Regions from separate parts of the Homo sapiens genome. Here regions 2, 3, 4, 5 and 6 are each reported to be linked to region 1. The links are microRNA targets in miRTarBase. Many come from high-throughput screens and were not tested one by one. Region 1 holds a microRNA gene; each other region holds the end of a gene's coding sequence.

What was found. Region 1 holds the annotated microRNA hsa-miR-6817-3p (UCUCUCUGACUCCAUGGCA, at 2,569-2,587, shown strand). A microRNA usually pairs through its seed, bases 2 to 8, with sites in the 3' UTR of a target mRNA and lowers its output. Matches are read on the target gene's strand: a 7mer-m8 pairs with bases 2 to 8, a 7mer-A1 pairs with bases 2 to 7 and ends in A, and an 8mer does both.
Region 2: the mRNA of LIMCH1 is a reported target of hsa-miR-6817-3p. Seed matches in the 3' UTR shown: 7mer-A1 at 2,052-2,058.
Region 3: miRTarBase lists B4GALNT3 as a target of hsa-miR-6817-3p. Seed matches in the 3' UTR shown: 7mer-A1 at 972-978.
Region 4: the mRNA of CABP4 is a reported target of hsa-miR-6817-3p. Seed matches in the 3' UTR shown: 7mer-A1 at 1,771-1,777 and 7mer-A1 at 1,737-1,743.
Region 5: miRTarBase lists PRCP as a target of hsa-miR-6817-3p. Seed matches in the 3' UTR shown: 7mer-m8 at 1,461-1,467, 8mer at 1,515-1,522, 8mer at 1,523-1,530, 7mer-A1 at 1,526-1,532, 7mer-A1 at 1,528-1,534 and 7mer-A1 at 1,530-1,536.
Region 6: the mRNA of ZDHHC22 is a reported target of hsa-miR-6817-3p. Seed matches in the 3' UTR shown: 7mer-A1 at 1,423-1,429, 7mer-A1 at 1,425-1,431, 7mer-A1 at 1,427-1,433, 7mer-A1 at 1,429-1,435, 7mer-A1 at 1,431-1,437, 7mer-A1 at 1,433-1,439 and 2 more.

Annotation. Positions count from the first base shown.
Region 1 is chr22:25,453,124-25,457,210 of GRCh38, forward strand. It overlaps MIR6817 (microRNA 6817), which reads left to right and starts at 2,523; the gene lies at 2,523-2,588. It also overlaps the pseudogene CRYBB2P1. RefSeq lists an enhancer at 2,590-2,693.
Region 2 is chr4:41,696,859-41,700,945 of GRCh38, forward strand. LIMCH1 (LIM and calponin homology domains 1) reads left to right here. Exons shown (of 32, transcript NM_001330672.2): 32 at 302-3,186. The coding sequence ends at 327. Among named protein-coding and RNA genes, the nearest start is that of LIMCH1-AS1, 6.1 kb to the left of the region's middle.
Region 3 is chr12:560,695-564,781 of GRCh38, forward strand. B4GALNT3 (beta-1,4-N-acetyl-galactosaminyltransferase 3) reads left to right here. Exons shown (of 20, transcript NM_173593.4): 20 at 649-2,815. The coding sequence ends at 757. It overlaps NINJ2 (ninjurin 2), which reads right to left. Exons shown (of 4, transcript NM_016533.6): 4 at 3,602-3,987. Among named protein-coding and RNA genes, the nearest start is that of NINJ2-AS1, 68 kb to the right of the region's middle. RefSeq lists an enhancer at 2,055-2,556.
Region 4 is chr11:67,457,800-67,461,886 of GRCh38, reverse strand. It overlaps CABP4 (calcium binding protein 4), which reads right to left. Exons shown (of 6, transcript NM_145200.5): 5 at 3,369-3,516; 6 at 135-3,256. The coding sequence ends at 3,228. It overlaps TMEM134 (transmembrane protein 134), which reads left to right. Exons shown (of 7, transcript NM_025124.4): 7 at 1-177. Among named protein-coding and RNA genes, the nearest start is that of CABP4, 4.5 kb to the right of the region's middle. RefSeq lists enhancers at 1,656-1,705, 1,916-1,965.
Region 5 is chr11:82,821,147-82,825,233 of GRCh38, reverse strand. PRCP (prolylcarboxypeptidase) reads left to right here. Exons shown (of 9, transcript NM_005040.4): 9 at 112-2,298. The coding sequence ends at 328. Among named protein-coding and RNA genes, the nearest start is that of LINC02734, 42 kb to the right of the region's middle.
Region 6 is chr14:77,130,152-77,134,238 of GRCh38, reverse strand. ZDHHC22 (zDHHC palmitoyltransferase 22) reads left to right here. Exons shown (of 3, transcript NM_174976.2): 3 at 291-2,969. The coding sequence ends at 556. Among named protein-coding and RNA genes, the nearest start is that of ZDHHC22, 9.6 kb to the left of the region's middle. RefSeq lists an enhancer at 1-451.

The sequences.
Region 1 (4,087 bases):
TTTTGGGTTGATTACTTGGCTCCCTCATTTTGTCCATTCGGTTGTCTTTCTATATTTATGCCAGTCAGTGATTGCCTGGATGACTGTAGGTTTTGTTTTATCTATCTATCTATCTATCTATCTATCTATCTATCTATCTATCTATCTATCTATAATATATCCTAATCCTATTATTATTATTATTTGAGACAGGTTATTGCTCTGTCACCCAGGCTGGAGTTCAGCAGTGCGATCTTGGCTCATTGCAGCCTTGAACCTCCCGGGCTCAAGTGATCCTCCCTCCTCAACCTCCCAAGTAGCTGGGACTACAGGTGCGCATCCCCATGCCCCACTAATTTTTTTGTACTTTCTGTAGAGGTAGGGTTTTGCCATGCTGCCCAGGCTTCTCTCGAACTCCCAGGCTCAAGTGATCTGCCTGCCTTAGCCTCCCAAAGTGCTGTGATTACAGGCGGGAGCCACTGTGCCCAGGGCAACCCTGTTTTTTTTTTTTTTTTTTTAAATCAACTTTTATTTTGATTAAATTGCAGCTTAGTTACATGTGAACCTTTGATGACACTGAGGCTTGTGGCCACTGACCCCGTCACCCAGGCAGTGAGCAAAGTGCCCGTCAGGTGGTTCTTCCGCCCACACTCCCTTTCTGCCTCCTTTTTTCCATCTGATAGTCCCCAGTGTCTATTGTTTCCATCTTTATGTTCGAGTGTATTCACTGTTTAGCTCCCACTCATAAGTGAGAACATGCAGTATTTGGTTTTCTGTTCTTGCCTTGGTTTGCTAAACATAATAATCCCCAGGTCTATCCATGCTGCTTAGGACATGATTGTGTGTTTTACTTATGGCTGCGTAGTATTTTTTGGTGTGTATGCGCCACATTAAAAAATCAAATCCACTGTTGCTGGTCATCTAGGATGCTTCCACATCTTTGTTCTTGTGAATGGCACGACCATGAATGCACGAGAGCATGTGTCTTTTTGATAGAAGGATTTATTGTCTTTTGGGTAGATACTAAGTAGTGGAATTGCTGGGTCTGATGGTAGTTCTGTTTTAAGTTCTTTGAGAATCTCTACACTGCTTTCCACAGTGTGAACCTGTTTTCACGTTCCCCAAGGTAGGAGCGTTCCCTTTCCTTTCCTGCCTCGCCAGCATGTTGTTTTGCTTTTGGAAAAATGGCCATTCTGACCAGCGTGAGATGGTATCTCATTGTGTTTGTGAGTTGCATTTCACTGATGATTAGTGAGGTAGTGCATTTTTTCATGTCAGTTGGTCACTTGAACGTCTTCTTTTTCTTTATTTTTATTTTTTATTTTTTGAGACAGTGTCTCACTCTGTTGCCCAGACTGGAGTGCAGTGGCGTGATCTTGGCTCACTGCAACCTCCGCCTCCCAGGTTCAAGTGATTCTTCTGCCTCAGCCTCCTGAGTAGCTGGGATTACAGGTGCCTGCCACTATGCCTAGCTAATTTTTGTGTATTTTAGTAGAGACGGGGTTTCACCATGTTGGCCAGGCTGGTCTTGAAGTCCTGACCTCGTGATTTGCCCGCCTCGGCCTCTCAAAGTGCTGGGATTAAAGGCATGAGCCACCATGCCTGACCAATTTTTTGTATTTTTAGTAGAGATAGAGTTTCACTGGTCTCGAACTCCTGATCTCAGGTGATCTGCCCACCTCAGCTTCCCAGAGTGCTGGGATTATAGGCATAAGCCACAGTGCCCAGCCCCTTGACAACTGTTTTGTAAGGAACCATTGCCTGAAGTAGAATTGCTGGATCAAGACTACTTTTCCAAAAGAGGATAATAAACATGATCTCCTCTTTTGTTAATGACTTAGATCATTCCTCTGAAAAGCCATTATTGCACATTGCTGAAATGTTCGCCTCTGCACTGGTTGGTCCCAGAATGCTAATCATTTTGAGATTTGTGCCTTCTTTCTTCTATTTTCTGCTTTCTTCTATTAGCCATGCCCGACCTGAAAGCCATCCCTTCCTCTTTAATGTACTATTTTTCTTCTAATGTGGATCTACAAAAACAGAGTTTGGGCAGAGTCTAACAACAGGAACAAGAGAAGAAACAGATCCAAAGAGAGGGGCTTTGGGCCCAGAGATGTTCTAGAGTCAGTTCTCAGTGGTGAAGGCTGACTGTGCATCTCTCTTCCTAACTTCACTTGCAGCCGTGTCGTATTGATAGCTTGAAATCTGCCACAGTGGGAGCATTTACACCATGGAAATTGGCAAACGCTGCAAATCAAGAGTGTTAATTTTCGTTTTGTTTTTTGAGAGTTGGCTATTAACTTACCAGCATACTATTGGCTTTAGTGCATGGCGTCTATATATTGGTATTTGTTGCTGGGCCGTTATTTAGACTGCCTTCTTATTTCTTAACTGTGTTCCAGGTGGGTAAAGGCAGCATAGCACTGAGTTCTAGATAACTGAGGGGATTTTGCACTTGGATTTGCTGTGCTAAGGTTTGGGTGGGGCTATTACATCTTGCCGGGCTGGGCAAGAGTGAACCCTAGGGGTCAACATCAGTAGCCAGGATTCTGCCATAGGAAGCTTGGAGTGGAACTGACCTGCCCCCTTTCTCTCTGACTCCATGGCAGCTGGGTGAGCTATGAACAGGCCAACTGCAAGGGCGAGCAGTTTGTGTTTGAGAAGGGCGAGTACGCCCACTGGGACTGGTGGACCAGCAGCCAGAGGACAGACTCAGCAGCCTGAGGCCCATCAAAGTGGTGAGCCCCCTGCCATCATCCTACTTTCTCTCTCTGCCACCTTGGAGCAGGAGGTCCTGGGACCAGGAAGGAGCCCGCCCCTCTAGCATTGTGCCCCTTCTGATTGGTGAGGAACCTCCTCACTGGGTGACCTTGCAAAAGTCATTTTACTTCCCTGAGCCTCAGTTTCTTCATCTGTAAAATGGGCATATTGGTATCTACTGTCCTGAGGTTCCAATGTGCTTATTAGCTTGAGGGTTGTCACACTGCAACTCCAGAAGGCTCCAATCACAAGACTATGAAATGCTCCAGAGGGCACTATTCACATTCTATTTTAGGTGGTTGGTGCCCGCCCCCCGCGCCCAAGGGTTGGGCAACTCCCGTCATTGCTCAATAACCAATAGCCATCAGAAATACTACAAGAAATTATGAGTTTGGGGCTGGAGGAGAAGGTGGTTTAGCTCTTCTTCAAGACTCGTGCCAGTGTGAGTTTTCAGTGCTTCTGAGATCCTGATTCTTACTAGTGTGTGAGAGTGTCAACTCTCAGGAAGGGGACAGGGCCCATCACTGCTCAGTTACACTCTCAAACCCTCCAAGCCCAGTCTAGCTCCTCCCAGGACCTACTGGAAGGTTGGAGAACACTGGACTTTGCACCCCACAGACCTGGGTTCCCAAGTTGGCTGTGCTGCTCCCAGCTGTGTGGCCTTGAGCACGTCATTTGACCTCTCTGTGCCGCACTTTCCTCATCTGCTAAATGGCATAAGAGGATTTTATGTCTGAGGGATAAGGGTTTTATGTGTAAAGGATGAGATGAGATAACTAAGGAAAATGTCATAGGGACAGGAGGATGGGAAGAGATGTAGAAATGAAGAAAAATCAAAGTATCTCAGGTGCCTATTAGAGGCACAGTTAGCCTGTGCATGTGTGTGTGTACATGTGTGGGTGTGCATGTGTGTGCACGTGTGTGTGTGCAAGTGTGCACGTGTGTGCACACATGTGTGGGTGTGCATGTGTGTGTACATGTGTGGGTGTGCACGTGTGCGCGCGCGTGTGTGTGTGCAAGTGTGCGTGTGTGCCTGTATGTGTGCACGCTTGTGTGGGTGTGCGTGTGTGTGTATGTGTGGGTGTTCATATGTGGGTGGGTAGGTAGATCGTAGCCACCATTTATAAAAGAGAAACTTGAGGAGGAAAAAATGACATTTCAGAATCAAACATTCCCCAAAGTGTTGCAGAGTGTCTGTTACATGAAAATGGCCCAGTAGAAACTTAACAAACGGCTGTGATCCAACAGCAGTGGTCATAGACACGTAGTGGGTGCATTGGGAAGAGAGTGATGTGTGGGACATGCTGATCCCAACTCTGGGGCATGAGCATGGGGTGGGAAGGCCAAC
Region 2 (4,087 bases), not on the chromosome of region 1:
CTTTGGTTTAGGGGCAATCCAGAGCATTTGATCAAACTTCACAGTGCATGTGAATCACCTGGGCACCACGTTAAGTGGGTCTGGAATGCGGCTTAAGAGCCCGGATTTCAAACAGACTCCAGGTGATGCCAGTACTACTTGTCCTGGGGCCACACTTCAAGTAGCAGGATGGGAGAAGTTTCTGGTCCCCAGGAAGAGGAGACTTTGGTAAAGGCAGTTGCTCATTAGGGAGGTTTTAAAATGTCTGAAGCGAGAAATGTTGCCTACCACTCTTGTTTGTTGTTGTTTGTTTTAATCACAGGTGCCGGGCAGCCTACAACATTGTGACACGGCTTTCAAGCTTCCGGATCACTCACCATTTCTTTACTGAGAGTGTCCCCTGGCAACTGCTTAACAAAATCCCAAGCTCAGGGGCTTCTCAGCATTTACCTAATTTCTGAAAGGCTCTTCTGAAAGGTGGTATCTGTTCTTTCGTAGCACAGTGTTTATGTTTTTCCTGTTTATTGTTTTGGTTTTTTTTTTTTTTTTGCATTTGCACAGTATACACAAAAGAATATGGGGTTGTAATGATCCTGAATAGCTCAAAAAAGGTTTTAGCATGGTCAAACAGGCTTATGGTTTAAAATGTGTTATTCTCTTCTTTGGGAATTAGCTAAATGATGCAATAAACCTGTTTTGTTTTAGAATGTCTAGGAATTAAACACTTTATGTTTACAGAATTGAGCTGCAGAAAGTGCAAGACATGCCAATTTGAGACACACGGTCTTCTAAGACTGAAGGATAAATTTAATGCATTTCAGAAACTAAACATCACAGCAAGCTCTATCTCTGAGCTATAATTTGTTTTTAATGCAAAGACACTAGTTTGATAATATATACTGTAATCCTGAAACATTTGTGTTACTTACCTTTGGAGGTAGAAATTATACCAATAAATTATTGCACCGTTAGTATTAGATTCTGTGTACCTTGGAAGTTATGTCATTAATATAGGCTGGTTCATCAAATAAAGCAAAACCTTGCAATATCAGCTAGATTTACACTCCGGGACGTTGCCCAAAGGTAGGAAGAAAGCAGAGGGAAATATTTCAGTCATCATTTCCAAAGTCATTATCAAAATCTGTGAGGAAGTTTAATCTTCCAAAGAGTCAATGTCAGACATCAGGCCTCTGTTGCCTGCTTCTCTCGAGGCACTAGATTAGGAGTCTTCAATAAGAGACTTAACATGAGGTATATGGAAGATGAGGCACCGAGATAAGTTCATCATTAGGTGTGAGCACTGCTCACCCTTGCTGGCAAGTTCTCCTTAAGGGCCTGAAGCACAGGTGTCCAAAGAAAAGCGTTAAGTCCATCTTAATAGAATCTATGTGGTATATGATGTGGTCAGCCCCTGGTCTGTGATCAGCAAGAACCTACAGCACAGATTATGCCCTGCCCACTTCAATGAATACCTACTCTCCTCCATTCTCCATCACTTTTTTTGCTATCAAGAACTCCGGACCTTGCCCATGGAGAAGTTTAGAGAGGAACTCTTGTGGAGAGCTGGTTTATTTTCTGCCCTGTGCGACGAGTTTCAGCTGGCCAAGAAAGGAGTCAAGTTATTAAAAAGCATCACAATGTAGATCTCCAGGCTGGTTTTTTGTTTTTTGTTGTTAAGACTGGGGAAAGGGGGACTATTTATTCTGCCTTAAATCAATGGCAAATAAGTCAAGATGACATTTTGTGAATGTAGACTATGGATACACTCCTAATAGATTGATGTAGTCATAAAAGGGGGTCAAGTAGATGTTTTTCTGTTATGTAAGCAATAATTTTTCCGTGTCTTATTGAGTATGGCTAGCGATTATTTATTACATGCTAGATGGGTTCTTTGCATGTGGGTTCCATATAGGTGCAGAAATTTCCTCAGCCACTGGAGGGATTTCGACCATATTTGTCATTTGGATGAGCTGTTATTAGATTGAAATCTACACATCATTTCATTAAAAATTGTGCCTTAGAAAACGCAAAGCTGTTGCACATGGCGATAAATTATGGATGCAGTACATTGAAGAGAGATGAAGTCACTTCCAAGTTTCCAAGACTTCTCATGGAGGTGTTTGCTGTTTTACAGGAAAAAATAAAAATAAAAAAAGAAAAAAAGAAAAAATTAAAAAGAAAAATTGTTTTGAAAATGTACAGATCAAGTCCAATATTTTGATTATCCACCTGCATGTTTTATTAAATATTTTGATAATGTGGATGTTTACACTTTGCATGATATTAGCAGAGTACCACTAGTAATGCACAAACATGTACAATATGGTCATTCATAACCGATTTTTATAGAATACTTTTTACATGTGCAACTCCATCCGTTATGTAAGGATTACATGAATATTGCACATTCCCTTCTGGTTTCACAAACCCATTTATACATATTTCTTAGTGAGGCTCATTGTACATGTATTGAAGCTAGAATCGAGTCAAGAAAAATAAAGCCCCATTCTCCAACTGCAAAATGTGCTTTCCCATAATGAACACTAGTCACCAGCACAGAATAATCTCCAACATTTTCTAAATTCTAATTGCCAACTGTTTCTATTTATATTTGATTTATATTTCATTTGGAGTCTGTTACATGGCAGCTTAGGCAGACTAGATCTTGTTTTTTCCAATGCAGCATAATGAGTATGATCTATTTCTTTTCAAATAATCTTTGAGATCCCAGGAAAAAAAAAATGCTCTGCTCCATTGAGCTATAATGTAAATGTGTTTGTTTAAAAAACAGGTGAGGCAAGTGAGTGATTTATTGTTCCTGAGGAAGTATATCTGATTTTTTTTCTCATACTCCAAAAGCTAGTCCCTACTCTTTAATAAAAATAATGGGTAACTTTTTGTTTTTCACTAGCGAACTTCCATGACATTTCCTTTCTATGTAGTGTGATTAATGCAATACATATTATAGTTATCTATACACAGTGTAAGATTTAACAAACTGAAATGATCCACCTCATATGTGAGTCCGTCCAAAAGATGTTACTGCTCTGGGTGGGCCAGTGTTCTATATCGGTTATACTAACTTTCATTTAAAGTATTTATTCTAAAATGCCTCTGAGAAACAGTAAAAAATAAAAACAACAAGTTGTCTAAAATGCAACAGCTTTTATAGTAAATGTACATTTATAAATAAAATACTCAAATCAACTTTGTATTCCATTAATTATTTTTGGAGGGGTGGCAGTTGGTTTTCTTACATGGGGAAGAGAGACTCAAGCTTTCTCTTGTAGCTTTTGGTCCAGGGTTACATAGACAGATGATGGCAGTGCTGGATGTTTGCATGTACCTATTGATGCATAGTTGAGGTCAACTATTGAAGGCAAACCAAACTTACTGGCTGGTTTAGGGGTCACTGAGGAATTGCCTTCTATAGAAGGGTTTAAGCTCCTGGAGATGAGACACACAATAACCAGCAGAGGCCATGCAAATGCCAGTGAAACTCGTCTGAAACAACCAAATGATGGTCAGCTTGCAGCACTGGCTAGACAAAAAGCAAGGCAAACTTTTTTTTTCTTTTTCTTTTTTTTTTTTTGAGACAGGGTCTCACTCTGTTGCCCAGAATGGAGTGCAGTGGTGCAATCTCAGCTCACTGCAGCCTCGACCTCCTGGGCTCAGGTGATTCTCCCACTTCAGCTTCCCAAGTAGCTGGGATTACAGGCATGTGCCACCACACCCAGCTAGTTTTTTGTATTTTCACTAGAGACGGGTTTCTCCATGTTGCCCACGCTGGTCTTGAACTCCTGGGCTCAAGCAGTCCACCCGCGTCCATCTCTCAAAGTGCTGGGATTACAGGCATGAGCTACCGCACCCAGCCAAGGCAAACTTTTTGAAGTCCCTGTATTCTGCCACTTTCCCCAGCACTACCCCAATGTTCCCCACTTATTATATATGTAAGGTGTGTTTACTAAGGGCCTTTTCCTCAGGTGTGGAGCCAGGGAATCTGCTGTGAATCAGTAGCATCCTGCTGACACTGTTGGCTCTCTGAAGTATACACGTATTCTGCCTTGCACTCTGTTCCAAATTTGAAGGTGGTGGCAATACTAAGCAA
Region 3 (4,087 bases), not on the chromosome of region 1:
CACCTCCACCTTGATCTCTGTGCTGGGCTTTTGCTGCCATGCACGGCTCCTGTACAGCCCTGAACCTCCTGCCTCCTCGGAGGCTCAGGCATCCAGTTCGGCCACTCTCAGCCCTGCCAGAAGTGCAGCCTCCCTGTGAGAGGGACACCCTGCAGGCTGCACATGCACAAAAGGCCTGGGGAGGGCCTAGGCGCCAGGTGTCTCAGTGCAGCAGCCCTGCCTTCCTCCGTCTATGACGTGTGCCCTGGAGGCTGGGCGCCAGTTATGGGGCACTCAGAGTGTGCCAGGAGCCGTGCTGAGCCCTCAGCATCCATCCTTCTCGTCTTCCCCACCTCTGATGTGTATATAGTATGTCTACTCTAATATTAGATAGATAGAATTCTATATCACACATTATCCTCTCATTACACGTATGTGATAATCGTCCTCCTAGAGATGAGCAGACAGGCTCTGAAAGAAGGCGTGACATACCCAGTCATGCAGCTGGGATCCAAACCCAGGCTGCCTGGCTTCAAAGCCCACAGCCGTCCACTGCACCTGCCTTCCCTGCCCCGTGGGGAGCGAACAGAGGGTCTGTGGTCGATGGGGAGGGGCCCCCCAGCTGCCTTCTGTGCTTCTGTTGGCTCATCTGTGTTTCTCCTCCTCCAGGATACTCCAAGCGGGCCTGGACGTGGAGCGTCTCTCCCTCAGGAATTTCTTCCATCATTTCCATTCCAAGCGAGGCATGTGGAGCCGTCGCCAGATGAAGACGCTGTAGCCGGAGGGTGTCCGCGGGGCCCAGCACTCCCCGCTCTGGACTAGCAGTGGCTCCCCAGGGCCCTGCTACTGTTCAGGGATGGGGAGTGGGGTGACGGCTGGACCCCAAGAGGCCTCGAAGCTGACGGCCCACTCCACCTGGAGCTGTCCCCTCACAGAGGCAGGTTCCGGGGCTCCTGTCTCTGCCTCCTGGGCCTTCAGAAGGGAGGACTTTGAGAGAGAGGCCAGGAGGGACCACTTGCTCAGTCGAGAACGGGAAGAGCTCCTGAGAAGGACGGGTCAGGAAGGAGAGATCTGACTGAGCGACACCATCCTCATCCATGAAGGTGCACGCCCACATCCCCCAAGCGCTCCTCACGCCAAGCGCTGACCACCAGACCCTCTTCTAGTGGACATATTTTATTGGGGGGCGGGGATTTTAAAAACAGAAAACCGAAACTGCTGTCCAGAGCGGGGGTGAGGTTGTGCACTGAGGGACTGTCCCCACGTGCAGGCCTCCCGCCCACTCCTATGTCCCTTGGGCGTTGTCCCTGGCCGCGGGACTGGTCCCACGTGGGGCAGGTCTCTGCTCCACCCCAGGCTCGTGCCTTCCAGAGACACACATCTCCCAGTAGCCACCAAACAGCTGGCCACTGATTAGGGCATTAACTTCCTCCGGATGGCTCACGTCAGACCAGAAGCACAGAACGGGCTGTTTCTGGTGCTTGGGCATTGGGAGGTGGGGAGCTGGCGGGCAGGGGGCTTGCCACTCCCTGGCACTGGACATTGAGGCCTGCAGAACAGGCAGGGTGATGAAGGCAGGGGAGAGAAGCCCTTTCCCTTACCGGCGTGCCTGTGGGTAAGGCCTCCCGAGAGGACATGGAGAAGAGGTAAAGAGGATGTGGACATATCTGTCAATTTCCTTAGGCAAGAAGCGGGTGGGGGCTGGACAGAAAGGGACGAAAAGGGAAGTGGAAGCTGTGAGCCTCACAGTCCAGCTCCACTGCAGACCTGCCCTTCTGCAGGGAGAGCCCTGGCCACCCGGCCTTGAGTGGAAGAAGAGGAAAGGGTGTACGGGGGCAAAACCCTGGACAGGGAGCAGGATAAGAAGGGGGCGGGATGAGAGGTTTGGGGAGGTGAGGACATTGCCCTGAGATATCCCCTGGAGGCAGGGAGAGGAGTGGGGGCAGGAGGAACTGAAGAGGGGGGCAGTTTCAGGGAAAATAGCCCTTAGCCTTTTTAGTCGATGCCACCCTTTCTGTCACCTGGAGACCTTGTACTTCTCTTGCACTAATAACCCCGGTGCTTTTGTGGCTGGGGGTTTTTCTGTTGCTGCTGCTGCCTCCACCACTGCTGTGAATTCACCCATGGTGCATTGGACACTGGATCTTGAACTCCAGAGTCTGTTTAGGGAGGTGAGCACAGGGCTGGGGGAGGTGCGGCGGGGCCCAGAAGACCAGGCCACTGAGCCCGCGCTCCAGGCTGTGACGGTCCAAACCACGGCACTGGAGCTGCAGGGTCTGCCTAGTGGGCTCTGCATTCCCCGAGAGCACGAGTTTGGCACATGGGAGAATGGAGCCCGTGGAGAACCTTCTGGGGGGTCGGGGAGAATCCCTGCCTCCCTTTAAGGAATCATGAAGGACAGAGACTTTTGAGATTGTGGCTTAGGAAGGCCATACCTGCTCCCTGGGCTGTGGCTTTTTCTGGTCCCTGCTGAGGCCGACTGGCCCCTGGAGAAGGATGGTGGGGCATAGGCTAGGGCTGCAGTTGGCCAGTGGGGCTGCCAGTTTCTTTCTGGGACCACTCTCGTCCTCGGGCATTGCACTGGAAGGCTGGAACCAGCCCAAACTGCCCACCTGCTTCACTTCCAATGACTAGGAGCCAGCCCAGCCTCCTGCCCTGCCCACACCCCTGCGCCCTGGGCCAGTGCCTTGCGTTTGATGTTACCTCCACACCATCTGCCTTAAGAGGAAGGGCCGGGCAAGGCCCCTACTCCCTAGAGAAATGTCTTGGGTAGGAGAGGGTGTGGGATGGTGGGAGGGGAAGCATTAAATACAGCAACTTCTTAGAAAAAAAAAAAGGTGCTTGTCTTTTCCTGTTGCTCTTCACGGATGTAAAGGATTGGGCTGAGGGGCCCAGGTGGGCGTGCCAAGGACCCTCCCACACCACCCTCCACCCTTACCACAAGTGTGATGCCTGCTGTGTGTGAGATGGCCTTCTCTGCACTGCGGTTTACTCAGGAAGAAGACAACATTGTTCCTGTCTGAGCAGCTCACCGTGTAATAGACTAGGCATTTTCTGTTCAGCAGATTAATGGAGGTTGGTGGTTTTAGCCGAGGAAAGCTATGGATACGCTGGGTGGAGAAGGCTAGATATAGGGCCAGAACGGTTTGGTGAGCAGTGGAGAGAAGCCAACGAGTGGCTGCTTCTAAACTGGCAGACCTTCTAAAAATCATTTCTGTTTCTGAGTTGGCAATGCTTTGCTAATGCTTTACAGATTTACCTTCCTCGTTATATTTGGCCCAGGCAAAGATCAAAATGAGTTTGCAGTCCTTAAACACATGCCTAAGGGAAGCTGAGACTGAAAGCCAGAATAGCTTACAGCAGGTTCGTGGAGAAGATTGTGCATATGTGCATCCACCTGCAATGGACTAATCTACAGTTCATGGGGCAGATGACGATAAGCGCAAGACATCTGGGCCAGGAACATTGGCTCCGAGCAGAACCCACAGAGGAGGAAGTAATTTAAAAGCCTTCCCACCCTCCAGGTCTGGGGTTTGCTCTCTTGAGCCCTCTCCAAGGCACAGATGGAGACCAGCCTGGATGCCTGAGCCTGCAGGACTAGACAAGTAAGTGGACTCAAGAGTGGATTTGAAGAAACCTTTATAGATATAGATTCCATTTTACAAGAAGGGAAAATTGAGGCCTGGAGCAGAAGGAAGCAGTGGGGTAGAGTCAGAACCAGCATCCTTAAGCCGGGCAGACTTGGCCTTAGACAGACATGCCTTACTTAGGTCCAGCAGATGCTACCAGGAAGGTATGGCTGGCAGTACCTGCGTCTGAGCTCAGGACTTCAGACCAAGATGGAAGTCCCTTAGACCAATAACATAAAAATCACTTTTTAACTCAGGTGCTGTGGGTAGGGAGCAAGGGCAGCTATACTGTCCTTTCAGAAGCTCTCCTGGGCTGTGGAAAGTGCCCACGAGCCTGGCAGATCACGGAGGAAGGAGGCAGAAGTTCCAGGCCCAGAACCTGTTGAGGAAGCAGAGAAGAGGCAATGAGGATGGCAGGCCAGATCAATGCCCCTCAACCTTCAGCATGCCCAGGATGCACCTGGCCACGTTACTCATGC
Region 4 (4,087 bases), not on the chromosome of region 1:
AGTCTGCGTTAGGAATCAGCAAGGTATAGTCCACAGAGTGGTTTTTATATTTTGTAATGGTTGGAGAAAAGTCAAAGAATAATAAGATTTTATGACATAAAATTATATAAAATTCAAATTTCCATGTCAATAAATGAAGTTTTACTGTTATTTATTAAAATTTCTGATATAGCCACACTCATTTGTTGACTTGACTTTGCACTACAAACTTCAACAGCAGAGTTGCGTGAGCAGCTGCAACAGAGACCAAAGCCTCAAAGCTGAAAATAATTATTCTCCAGCCCTTTACAGAAAGTTTCCCCACCCTTAGTCTACATGAACACTTTGACAGAACACCGTGAATCTGACTTTTCTCTCCAGTTATTTATAAGATTTGCTTTTTATATTCTGTGGTTTCAATGGGATATATCCAGATATATATTTATTTTTATTTACCCTACTCTGACTTCAGTTTGTTCCTTCAATCTGGGGAGTTGAAGTCTGTGGAAGTCTTTATGGAAAATTTTCAGCCATTATCTCTTTGGTTATTGCTTCTTGTTCATTCTCTATGTATGTCCTCCGTCTGAGACTCCCAAGGACTTATCTGTCTTTTTCTTTGAGACAGGGTCTCTTGCTCTGTCACCAAGGCTGGAGTGCAGTGGCACGATCACTGCAGCCTCCAACTCCTGGGCTCAAATGATCCTCTCACCTCAGCCTCCTGAATAGCTGGAACTACAAGCATGAGCCACTACACCCAGCTTATTTTTTTATTATTTTTTTTAAGAGGCAGGGTCTTGCTGTTAGGCTGGTCTCAAACTCCTGGCCTCAAGTGATCCTCCTGCCTTAGCCTCCCAAAATGCTGGGATTACAGGCATAAGCCACCACACCCAGTCTTCCAGTGACCTTTTTTTTTTTTTTTTTCCGAGACGGAGTCTCGCTCTGTAGCCCAGGCTGGAGTGCAGTGGTGCAATCTCGGCTCACTGCAAGCTCCGCCTCCTGGGTTCACGCCATTCTCTTGCCTCAGCCTCCCTAGTAGCTGGGACTACAGGCGCCCGCCACCACGCCCAGCTAATTTTTTTTTGTATTTTTAGTAGAGATGGGGTTTCACTGTGTTAGCCAGGATGGTCTCGATCTCCTGACCCTGTGACCCGCCCGTCTCAGCCTCCCAAAGTGCTGGGATTACAGGCGTGAGCCACCACACCCAGCCTTCCAGTGACTTTTAACTACCCTGTAATATTTTCCATCCTTTTGTCTCTCAGTGTTACATTATAAGTGATTTCTTAGATATAGCTTCCAGTTCATTAATCTTTAAATTGTGTTTAATCTGCTGTTTAGCTTATCCATTATTTTTTCATTCCAATGGCTGTGTGTGTGTGTGTGTGTGTGTGTGTATATATAAAATATACTTTATTTTTTTAACAGAAGCCATGGTTTGTTTTTTTCTTTTTGACGGATTCTCACTCTGTTACCCACGCTGGAGTGCAGTGGTGCGATCTCGACTCACTGCAACCTCTGCCTCCTGGGCTCAAGTGATCCTCCCACCTCAGCCTGTAGAATACCTGGGACCACAGATGCAAGCACCACCACGCCTGGCTAATTTTTGTATTTTTAGTAGAGACAGGGTTTCACCATGTTGCCCAGGCTGGTCTCGAATTCCTGAGCTCAAGCAACCCACCCACCTTGGCCTCCCAAAGTGCTGGGATTCCAGGCATGAGCCATGCGCCTGGCCTGTTGGGTTACTTTTTAAATCTTCCGGTTCTCTCTTCATACTATCCTGTTACTGCATGTTGATCTCTCTTCCCCTTTTAGCCGTCTTTTATTTGCATGTATCTTGTGGTCTCTTAGGCGGCTGTATTATGTACACTGAGATGCCAGTCCTCTTGTTTTTGTCTCTGTCTCGTCTCCTTCATGGTGGTTTCTTTACTTTTATAATCAGTATGGTTTTTTTGTTTTGTTTTTGAGACGGAGTCTCGATCTGTTGCTCAGGCTGGGGTGCAATGGTGTGATCTCAGCTCACTGCAGCTCCACCTCCCGGGCTCAAGCGATTCTCCTGCCTCAACCTCCGAGTAGCTGAGATTACAGGTGCATGCTACCTCGCCCAGTTAATTTTTGTATTTTTAGTAGAGATGGGGTTTCACCATGTTGGTCAGGCTGGCCTCAAACTCCTGACCTCAGGTAATTCACCCGCCTCAGCCTCCCAAAGTGCTGGGATTACAGGCGTGAGCCACCACTCCCAGCCCAATAATCTGTAATTTTTATCACAAGTTCCCCTTTGGGAGCGGCAGGGTTTTTTTCCAGTTTTTCACACCCTGGAGAGAGACTACACGCCTGCTTGAAGGGCAGGCCCTGGAGTTCCAGGCTCTTTAGGGCAGCTGTTTCCACTCTGGGCCCTGAACATCTGTATCCTTGCCACTTTCTATGACTGGTCAGTGCAGACAGATTAATATCTTAGCCTTTGGAGACCCTGGAATATATCCGGGGGGTTTGTTTCTTGCTCCCCAGACTCATATGGTTCTTCTGTCACTCATGGTTGTAGGAGTCCAGGCGGCCAAGCCTCCATCCAGATCTGAAACCCCCACAGCGTCAGCTCCCTCTTACAACCCCAGCTTTGATTTCTTTGTCTTTGATACATGGAGCCATCCCTTTCTTTCTTTCAAGCTCACTTTTTTTACACTTGGGTTTTTTGGTTTTTTGTTTGTTTTTTTGTCTTTTATTTTTCCTTTTTGTGGAGAATGGGGTCTCAGTATATTGCCCAGGCAGGTCTTGCACTCCTGGGCTCAAGCTATCCTCCCGCTTCTGCCCCCTGACAGCTGGGCTTACAGGTGTGAGCCACTGCACCCGGCTCAAGTTCATTAAAAAAAAAAAAAATTATAAACATAAGTAGTGGAAGGGGTCCAGCCATCCTCTCCATTCATCATGCCACTGGGGGGTCCCCACTGAATGCTGCCAGTGCCAGGGAACTCCCTACCTCCCAGAGGTCTGGAGAGACCCAAATCTTGCTCACACTGAGGAACGGTGGGCAGCTGAGAGCAGGTCTTCTCCAGGCAGCTTGAGTAGGAGGAGGTAAGGATGAGGGTGGGCAGGTAACATAACAAGCCAACATTGAGGCCAGGTGTTTTCAGGGATAGAAGTAGTCTGGGGGCTGCTGGGTCTCCATCTCCATCCTGGAGGCTCCTGGGGGAGGCCTGCAGCCTGGGTCTGGCTGGTGTCTGGGGCCGCAGGGGCAACAGATATTCCCTCCTGGAGCCTCAGTGGCGGGAGAGCATCATCACAAACTCTGCGGGAGAGAAGGGCAGGGCTTGGGTCAGTCCACGTCAGGGATCCCAGGAGGTGCTGGGCTCAGCCTAGGCCCTGGAAGCACGGGAGGGTTTTCCGGGAAGGAGACTCACCGTCAAAGTCTACGGTGCCATCCCCATTGAGGTCCACTTCTCGGAGCATCTCGTCCAGCTCAGGACCCGCCAGCGGCTCCCCGAGCAGAGCCGGTACCGCCTCCCGCAGCTCCGCCACCGTAATTCGTCCATCCCTGTCCCTGTCAAACTAAGGTCCCCGCAAAGCTCAGCCCCTCCCACCCAAAGCTGCCTCAGCCTCAGCCAGCTCCACTCTTTTATTTTTTATTTTATTTTATTTTATTTATTTTTATTTTATTTTTTGAGATGGAGTCTTGCTCTGTCACCAGGCTGGAGTGCAGTGACGCAATTTCGGCTCACTGCAACCTTCGCCTCCAGGGTTCAAGTGATTCTCCTGCCTCAGCCTCCTGAGTAGCTGAGATTACAGGTGCCCACCACAACCCTTGGCTAATTTTTGTATTTTTAATAGAGATGGGGTTTTGCCATGTTGGCCAGGCTGACCTCAAACTCCTGACCTCAGGTGATCTGCCCACCTTGGCCTCCCAAAGTGCTGGGATTGCAGGCGTGAGCCACCGCGCCTGGCCAGCCAGTTCCACTCTTACCGCTGCCTGTACCTAGATGCTCCCCTGCCCACCATCTCTGCCCATGCACACCTTCCACACCCTCCCACACCAAGGTGGTTTGCCTCCTGCTCCAGGAAGTCCCCCTGGACGGATCCTCTAGCTGGTAGTGATCTGAACCATCTCTGACCCATCCCTGGG
Region 5 (4,087 bases), not on the chromosome of region 1:
TACAAGTTTATAATTTTAGGTGTTAAACATGTAATAGGTTTCTTCTAGCTTATCTGAGTGTTAACATGAAAAACTAACAACTTTATTTTTTCTTCTTTTTTTCACTTGCAGCAATGGTGAACTAGACCCCTGGTCAGGAGGTGGAGTAACTAAGGATATCACAGACACTCTGGTTGCAGTCACCATCTCAGAGGGGGCCCACCACTTAGATCTCCGCACCAAGAATGCCTTGGATCCTATGTCTGTGCTGTTAGCCCGCTCCTTGGAAGTTAGACATATGAAGAATTGGATCAGAGATTTCTATGACAGTGCGGGAAAGCAGCACTGAGAAACTTTTGATTGTTTTCAATTTCTTCTTTTATGTTCACACCACCACATTCCCATTCACTTTGATTTTCTACATGTAATTACCTTCTTTTGTTTATCATTAGATTTGATGGGGCCAAAGTTGAGATAGAATAGAGGGTGATGACGGTAAGAGCAAGTGTCCCATGAATGTGATTTCCTGGGTTCTCACTGTCTTTGCACCACGTCTAGGAAGAATCTTCTTGATAGCTCTCCCACACCATCAGTGGCCCTCATAACTGGAGTAGAGTTCCTGGTTGCTTTTCATAAGAGGGAGAGTTACTTTCTTTGTATCTCTGCAAGCAGAGATTTCTCTTTGGTTTTGAGGTTGAAGTGTCTTTGGCCCATTTGTAAGTCCCCATCCCTACCCTACACAAAGTAAAAGCAGAAGATAGATAAAAAATGATGTAATTGCAGCTGGTAGGATGTCTGGTGCCAATCCAGGAAGTGAGAGCCATTTCTTTTGTACCGGATTTAATGACTTTGAACTGTGCTGTAAATAAATAATACAGCTGGACCTTATACCTGTGTGTTGCTTCTGAAGCTCACTTCAACTCCGGCTGATGGAAATGCTGTGTGCACTGGGCTTAGCTGTTTTTGGAAAGTCCTTTAATTTTTTCTCTTCCACTTGGCAGCTTTTCTTAGTTCTGGGATGTTGGCCACTGTGGTACTGCCAGTAAGAAATCTGGCCTTTTTCTGCTCCATTTCTCTTTGTTTCTAAGGTCAGTTTTAATTTGTTTGAATTCTGCCAGTTTAGGAAAATGACTCTGTTTTGTCTTTTTAAATCTGAGCAAGCTTTATGCTGTAGTCACTAATTATATTTCAGTAAGAAGCCTTTAAAAATTGATGAATCAGCTATTCCAAAAGTAGAATATAGTAATATTCAGCTTTTAAATTTTTAAAATTTTATTTTCTGATAGTTGTTACTGCTGTCATTAAAACCAGAAGTGTTAGACACTAACAGGCAGGTGCACAAGAACTTTTCTGTATGACTTCCAAAAGACAAGCTGACTAATTCATGCAGGCAGCATATTTGACATTAATAAATGGCCAAGCCATTCCTATTTCCAAGGGGTTGGCTTCTTTCAAGCAGTTCTTACACTGAGACCTTTCTTCAGAGAGCTTTTCTAGGATAACAAATAGGGTTGGATCAAAACCTTTCAGGGACACAGAGAGACAGAGAGAGAGAGACTAACAGTTTCTACTCTGTTGAAAGATTTCTTCCTCCTTGTTTCTTTTCATTTTCTCTCAATAATTTTTTTTTCTTCACCCTGCCTTGGGAACATTTTCTGCTTTTAAAAAACTGTACCTTGAGCTTGATCATTTTTATGGCATTTTTTTTTTTTAAGGGCATATATAGAGTTCATTCTTGGGATGGAAAGCTGAAATATTTCCTTTACTTTCCCTGGCATCTGGGAGATACAGGAAAATCTTTGTCTTATTTTGGGAGCCTTCAGTTCTCATTGTAATGAGTTGTCTATCAAAGCATTTGGTAACTATTTTGTTTCAGCATCACAGAACAATCGATTTGGGTGGGAATTTAAGGGCCAAAACAATACTAGTTTTTATTCTTTGTCAACTAAGAAATTAAATAATGCAGGGTTTATGGGCTCAATAGAGGATATTCTTACAATTTATTTTACGATTTTAGGGTTTTTCCCTTGTGTAGAATCTTTAAAATACTTTGCCATTTTATTTGATGTTGATTATTTGGATGAGTTACATTATTCTGAAGAAACAAACTGCAAAAAATAGAATTTTTTGGCAAGCATAATTGTATCCTATTACTGTATGCATTTTAGGAATATAGATAGCAGCCTTAATTGAAGTGAGTATAATTATAATATGCTAAGGTTTAATTTTAACATGAAAAAGAATTGGAGTGTCAGATAAGCCTTATTATTTAAAGCATCCCTCTAATAAAACTGCACTTTTTACTGACAGGGAAAGAGAGACATGGAGACTTGAGTGCTTTCTATTTTTATTTTTTTCAGCTCCCAAGAGCTTAGAAAGAATTGGGTGCTTTTTATTTTCTGTTTTTGTTACTTTAACTGCCTGGAGTCAATGGGTAGAACTAAAGTAACTTAGGAGAACCTTCATAAGGAATCTGTAGCGCCAAGAGGTTATCCAGAGGAGCCAGTGTCTAAGCCAGCATAGTAGAGGGTGAAGGCCCCTGAGATATCCAGTTCAACTGCATCATTTTGTAAGGGATAGAATTGTAGCTTAGAGAGAAGGAACTTATCTACGGCCTCACAGCTCCTTTTTGGCAAAACTGGGGCAGAACTGGGGCTCCTTTTTGGCAAATTTTGTTTGCTTCATTTTACTGGTACAGTTTTATTTTTGTTTGGATTCAAGCAACAAAAGCCCACAAAACCAGCTTAAGGAAAAGAAATGTTTTGAAACTGCCAGATCAGCTCCAGGACTTGGGTTACCAGGAATCATGGGGAACTAGAACTAGGGTCTGGAAAGTCATTAAAAATCAGTACTGCTGTGTTCTGTTTCACTTTCAACAGAGGTGACCCATTGTCAGACTGTGGTTTGGATTTGTTCGTCAGATGTCTACAGTTCGATAGGCAGTCTAAAGCGTGCATCAGAATTACCCAAAAGGGCTTGTAAAAATGCTGATTGCTGAGCCCCATCCCAGAGTTTCTAACATGTCTTGGGGTGGATCTTGGGAAGGTGCATTTCTAACAAGTTCCCAGGTGATGCTGGAGCATCACACTTTTGAGAGCCCCTAGTTGAAAGAATCTGGAATTTGAATTTGAATTCAGTTATCTTACTTCTGTCATCCTGCCTGACTCATTTGAGTGTGGGAGCCCTGCCTAATGCTTCTCTTCCCATGACTGCTTTATTCTCCCTCTACAGACCAGCTTACTTTTCTCTACTCGCACAATGCCCATAATGACTTCTTAGAATGGTGTCCTCGACCCTCTGAGGGAGCAATACCTCACAAATGCACAACTCTCAGGTGGTTAGGAAAGAACAGGGCCATGAAAACATGGTTACAAAGGTGTACTTCTTAGGATTGGGGAAGCAGTTCAGGCAACTCAATCACACGACATCTATCACACAGTGTTTCTTGGAGCACAGGTATCCAACAAAATGCCAATAACTTGTGTAGTAGAAAGACTTATACCTATAGTTGAGCAAGTGTGGAAAATAATGGGACAAATGAAGTTAAATAGTTGCTTCGTTTATCTGTAAATAGTATGTGACTCTCCAAAATGGTGATTGAGAATACAACTTTTTTTTTGGAGACGGAGTCTCGCTCTGTTGCCCAGGCTGGAGTGCAGTGGCGCGATCTCGGCTCACTGCAAGCTCCGCCTCCCAGGTTCACGCCATTCTCCTGCCTCAGCCCCCGGAGTAGCTGGGACTACAGGTGCCCACCACCACACCCGGCTAATTTTTTTTTTTTTTTTTTTTTTTTTTTTTTTTTTAGTAGAGACGGGGTTTCACCGTGTTAGCAAGGATGATCTCGATTTCCTGACCTCGTGATCTGCCCGCCTCGGCCTCCCAAAGTGTTGGAATTACAGGCGTGAGCCACCGCGCCTGGCCAGCTTTTTCTATTCTTAACAGAGCATCTCCTAGGCATAAGGCATTGGTCTAAAACCTAAAAAATGCAATGGCGAAAAAGCAAACACAGCACCTAATTTAATAAGGTTTGTGTTCTGCTGGGAGAAAGACACGAAATGTCAAGTTATACAATGAATTGGTACAATTATAAATGTTACGAAGAGTTGAG
Region 6 (4,087 bases), not on the chromosome of region 1:
CCAGGAGCTGAGGGCTGTCCTTGCTAAGCTCATCAAACTTAGCTCTCTTCTCTGCCATGTCTCCAGTCTTCCCCTCTTGCCTCAGGTGCCATCCGCGCCAAGAAAAAGTTAGGGCAGCTGGTTCTTCCTTCCTCTCCCTCACTGCAGCTGCAGCGCTGAGGTTGCTACAAAATGTAGCGTCAATCTCATTAATCTCCCTCCCTCCCGGTGGAAAGCCTGCCTAGATCGCAGTTATGCCGGTGGCCTGGGTGTAAAGCGGCTCTGGTGTTTCCCCTCCCCGTGCCCTGCAGGAGCTGTCCTGGGTTCTGAAATGTTCGTCATCCTCATGCTCTACCTCTGGTTCGCCATCGGCCTGGCCTGCGCCGGCTTCTGCTGCCACCAGCTGCTGTTGATCCTCCGCGGGCAGACCCGCCACCAGGTGCGGAAGGGGGTGGCAGTGAGGGCCCGGCCCTGGCGCAAGAACTTACAAGAGGTCTTCGGAAAGAGGTGGCTGCTGGGCCTGCTGGTCCCCATGTTCAATGTCGGAAGTGAGAGCTCCAAGCAGCAGGATAAGTAGTAGACACTCCCGTCATTTATCTCTCTGTCTCTGTCTTGACTCCTCCTGAGCATAAAACCATGGCAGCCTTGTCTCCACCCATGACTCACTACAACCTTGTGCTGGTAAGGTCCTAGCATCTTCCCCTCACCTTCCACCCATGAGAACAGCGTGAGCTGGTGGATCATGACAAGGAGGAAAAATGTCCCCCCAGGCATTTCTAGGCTCCTCACGAGCCAGCCAGGTGGCTGCTAGCTGTTAGGCTGCCTCTGCTTTCTTTCCGTCCCCTTGGGATCCCTGCTTTCCCCCTCTTCCTGGCTCATCCATTCTCCACCGTGTCTCATTCATCACTGCTGTCTGCTAGAGCCCTTCCTCTCAGCCCCCATGTTGGGAGAGGGGAGTGGATTCTTGCTGCTGGTATGAGACTCCCTGGGACCTAGAGGCTGGCAAATGTTTAAAATCACCACGTGTAAGAGGCAGCCAAGTCAGCTCTGCCAACTGCTAGGGGAGTTGGGAAAGAGTGGGTGTGTGTCCGCATCCCCTCTGTAGGAAAAAGAACTTAGTAGCTTGCTGCTCCCTCACCACCCCCCACCAGGTTCAAGACCCTTTTTCTGGGAGACAGCAATCAATGGCCTGCTTTTTCCAAATGTTATTCCCTGTCCACCCTGCCCCATCTGGCCGGCCCAGCCCAGTCCAGGACCTGGCTGGATGCTTCCTGTCCCTGGAACTCTTCCAGCCTTTCTACTTGATCTCCAGCCCCCAGGTCTTTGCCAGATGATGGGAAGGCAAGGAAGAAGGGACAGGGAAAGATAATTACTGATAAATGAAGGGGATATTCGACTGTATAACCATATGGAAGTGTGTGTGTGTGTGTGTGTGTGTGTGTGAGAGAGAGAGAGAGAGAGATGGGTGGTGGTGAGAAGTGTTGTTAGAAACATATAGGAATAATGCCTAGGGGAAAGGGAGAAGTGAGAGGGACAATTGGGTTCATTTATGCCCTATACAAAGGGCATTCCAGCAGCTGAAACTCTTCAATGTTTGAATGGCTGCCTGTGAAGGTAGTGAGTGCCCCATCACTGGAGGTATTCCAGCAGAGTCTAGGCAGTCGTCTGCCAGGCATGCTGTGGAAGGGATTTCTGTACAGGGTCATTCTAGGTGAGCTTACACATTCCTTCCAACCCCAAGGTTCTGATGTCCTGGTTGTGATTGCTGGACCCAGAGGCAAGATCTGCAGAGATGCCTGTGAGATATTTGCTTTCCTAGAGGGGAGTGTGGGCATGGGAGGGGTCTGAAAATCAGGACCCAACCCAGCCACTGAAGAGAGAGTCTCTGCAGAGACAGGGCTACCTGGGTGGTTGAGGGGACTGACATTTGAGGACAGGGAGATGGAGCAGTGTCATTGTCAGTGGCAGGGCATGGGGGGCAGTGGTGAGCTAAGGCTGAGGAGTGGAGATGACCAGAATATAAGGGTGCAATTCCCAGACCATCCCTGCGCATCTGACTGACTCCGGTGGAGGCACTGCTGTGTGTTTTCTGAAACCTAGAGGACCAGACCTCTGGGGCATATAAGGGAGTAGGGACAACACAAGTGCCCCCTCCTGACTGGGTCCCAAAGCCAATATGACATCCATGCAGGCAGCAGTGCTGAATCCATGCCCTGCAATGTCCAACCGCCAACTGCAGTGACCCGCTGATAGCTGCGCAACAGCCTGGGTTCTTGAGCAGAGATTGGGAGGACTTTACTGTGGTTCTGCCTTCACACCCCCTAGAGAGCTAATGTAGTATTGGCTCCACCTGCTCACATTTCTCCCTCCCATACTCATTCCTTCACTCATCCATCCTACGTATATTTATTGAGTGCCAACTACGTTCCCAGCCTCTTCCAGGCACTGGCAATGCAGTGATGAACAGGATGACAAGATTCATGCCATCAGGGGCACCTTGTCACTGCCGTCTGTGCACTGATTCACACTCCCTGCAAAATGGTCACTCTGCCATCTTGGTGGTTGGTGGGGCAGGTCATTTGGAAATAAAGAATGTGATAGAGATGGCTGAAGAGGGGAAGCCTAGGCTGCCTCAATGGAGGAGTCGCTGGGGGCATTTTCACCCACAATTCTGGCCATACTTAAGCAATGGGAGGGAGAGGGAGGAGGGGAAGATCTGGGCAATTTTGGCCTTGACTCTTTCCTGGCTCCAGAGCTCAAGCTTAGAAGCCAGCCCTGCTATTTCCAGCCTCCTGAAGGCTCAGCACGGTGAGGCCTGACATCCTGGGGAAGGGCAACAGGGAGACCTACAGGATGTTGGCTGCTTGCAGACTGGTCAATGGGGGATGACGGTGGGGAGGTTGCCAGATGTGAGACTTGAGTAGCATTTGTACACATGGCCCTGTATTGTCCTTGAAGAACATCAATAAAATATATGGTTTTAAATTGGATTTGATATGATTGTATGGGCACTGTTGGTAGCAGGGCTGGACTGTACTGATGCAGCCATACTAGCTATTCAAATATTTAAAATAAGTATTGAAAATACTAAGAAATTCTTACAACTAAGAAAGTTGGTAAACAACCATGGCTCAGATTCTCTGAGTATCCTACCCCTTCTGCCCCTGCTCCTCCCTGGGGACCCTGGATTCACTCCACAATCCAGCAACTAAAGTGATCATTCCTGGCACATGCATGGGGCCCCCCAGCCCTGCTGCAGCCCTCAGTCAGAGTCCATTGTGATTTGTCAGGGCTGGGCTGTGTGGTGCTAAATAGGTGTCACCTCTGGTTGGTAACCAGAGGCTTCAGTGCTGGGTTGGTAACCAGAGGCTTCAGTGCTGGGGTCCATGGACCCACAGGGACCAGAGATGGAATATCTTACCTAGGAACTTCCCTTTTCCTCCTTCTCCTTCCATTCTTTCTCCTCCTCTCCCTCTCCTCCCCATATCAGAAGACAGGTGAGGAAAAGAGTGAAGAGAGTCCCTCTGCTGCTCCTCCACAGACAGAGCCAGCTTCTCCTAGGGATCAGTCAGGCCCCCTGCCCTCTCAGGCCCTGCAACATCTGGAGGTCTCAGGCTTCCCAGCCCTGGGGACAGTTGGGAGGGTGTTGAGCCTTTCAGGCAGTGGGCCCTGAGCAGACGAATGAGCAAGGCCTCTGATTCATCCTAAAGACACAAGGCCTGGACTGAGGAAGGATACAACTGCAAAGAGCTGTTGCAGAACCCTCAGCCTAGCCGAGTGTCATGGTGGTGTATGTTCCCTGAACACACACCAACAGGCGAACAGCTTTGCTGCAGGTGCTGGGTGAATGGAGCTGTGGTGAATCCTCAGCACATTCTAGAACATGGGCTGCCTACACTCCATGGGGCAGGCACCACACTTGCCTTGGTCACTGTCATATCCTTGATGCGTAGCAGGGGCTAGGCACACAGTAGGTGCTCAATGAATATTGCCTGAATGATGCAGATTTAGCGCTCACATGCTTACTCCACATCTCTTATTCCCATGCTGGACCCAGGACTGCACTTTGCACATCGTGGGGCTAGAAAACAGATGAGACCACTCTCTC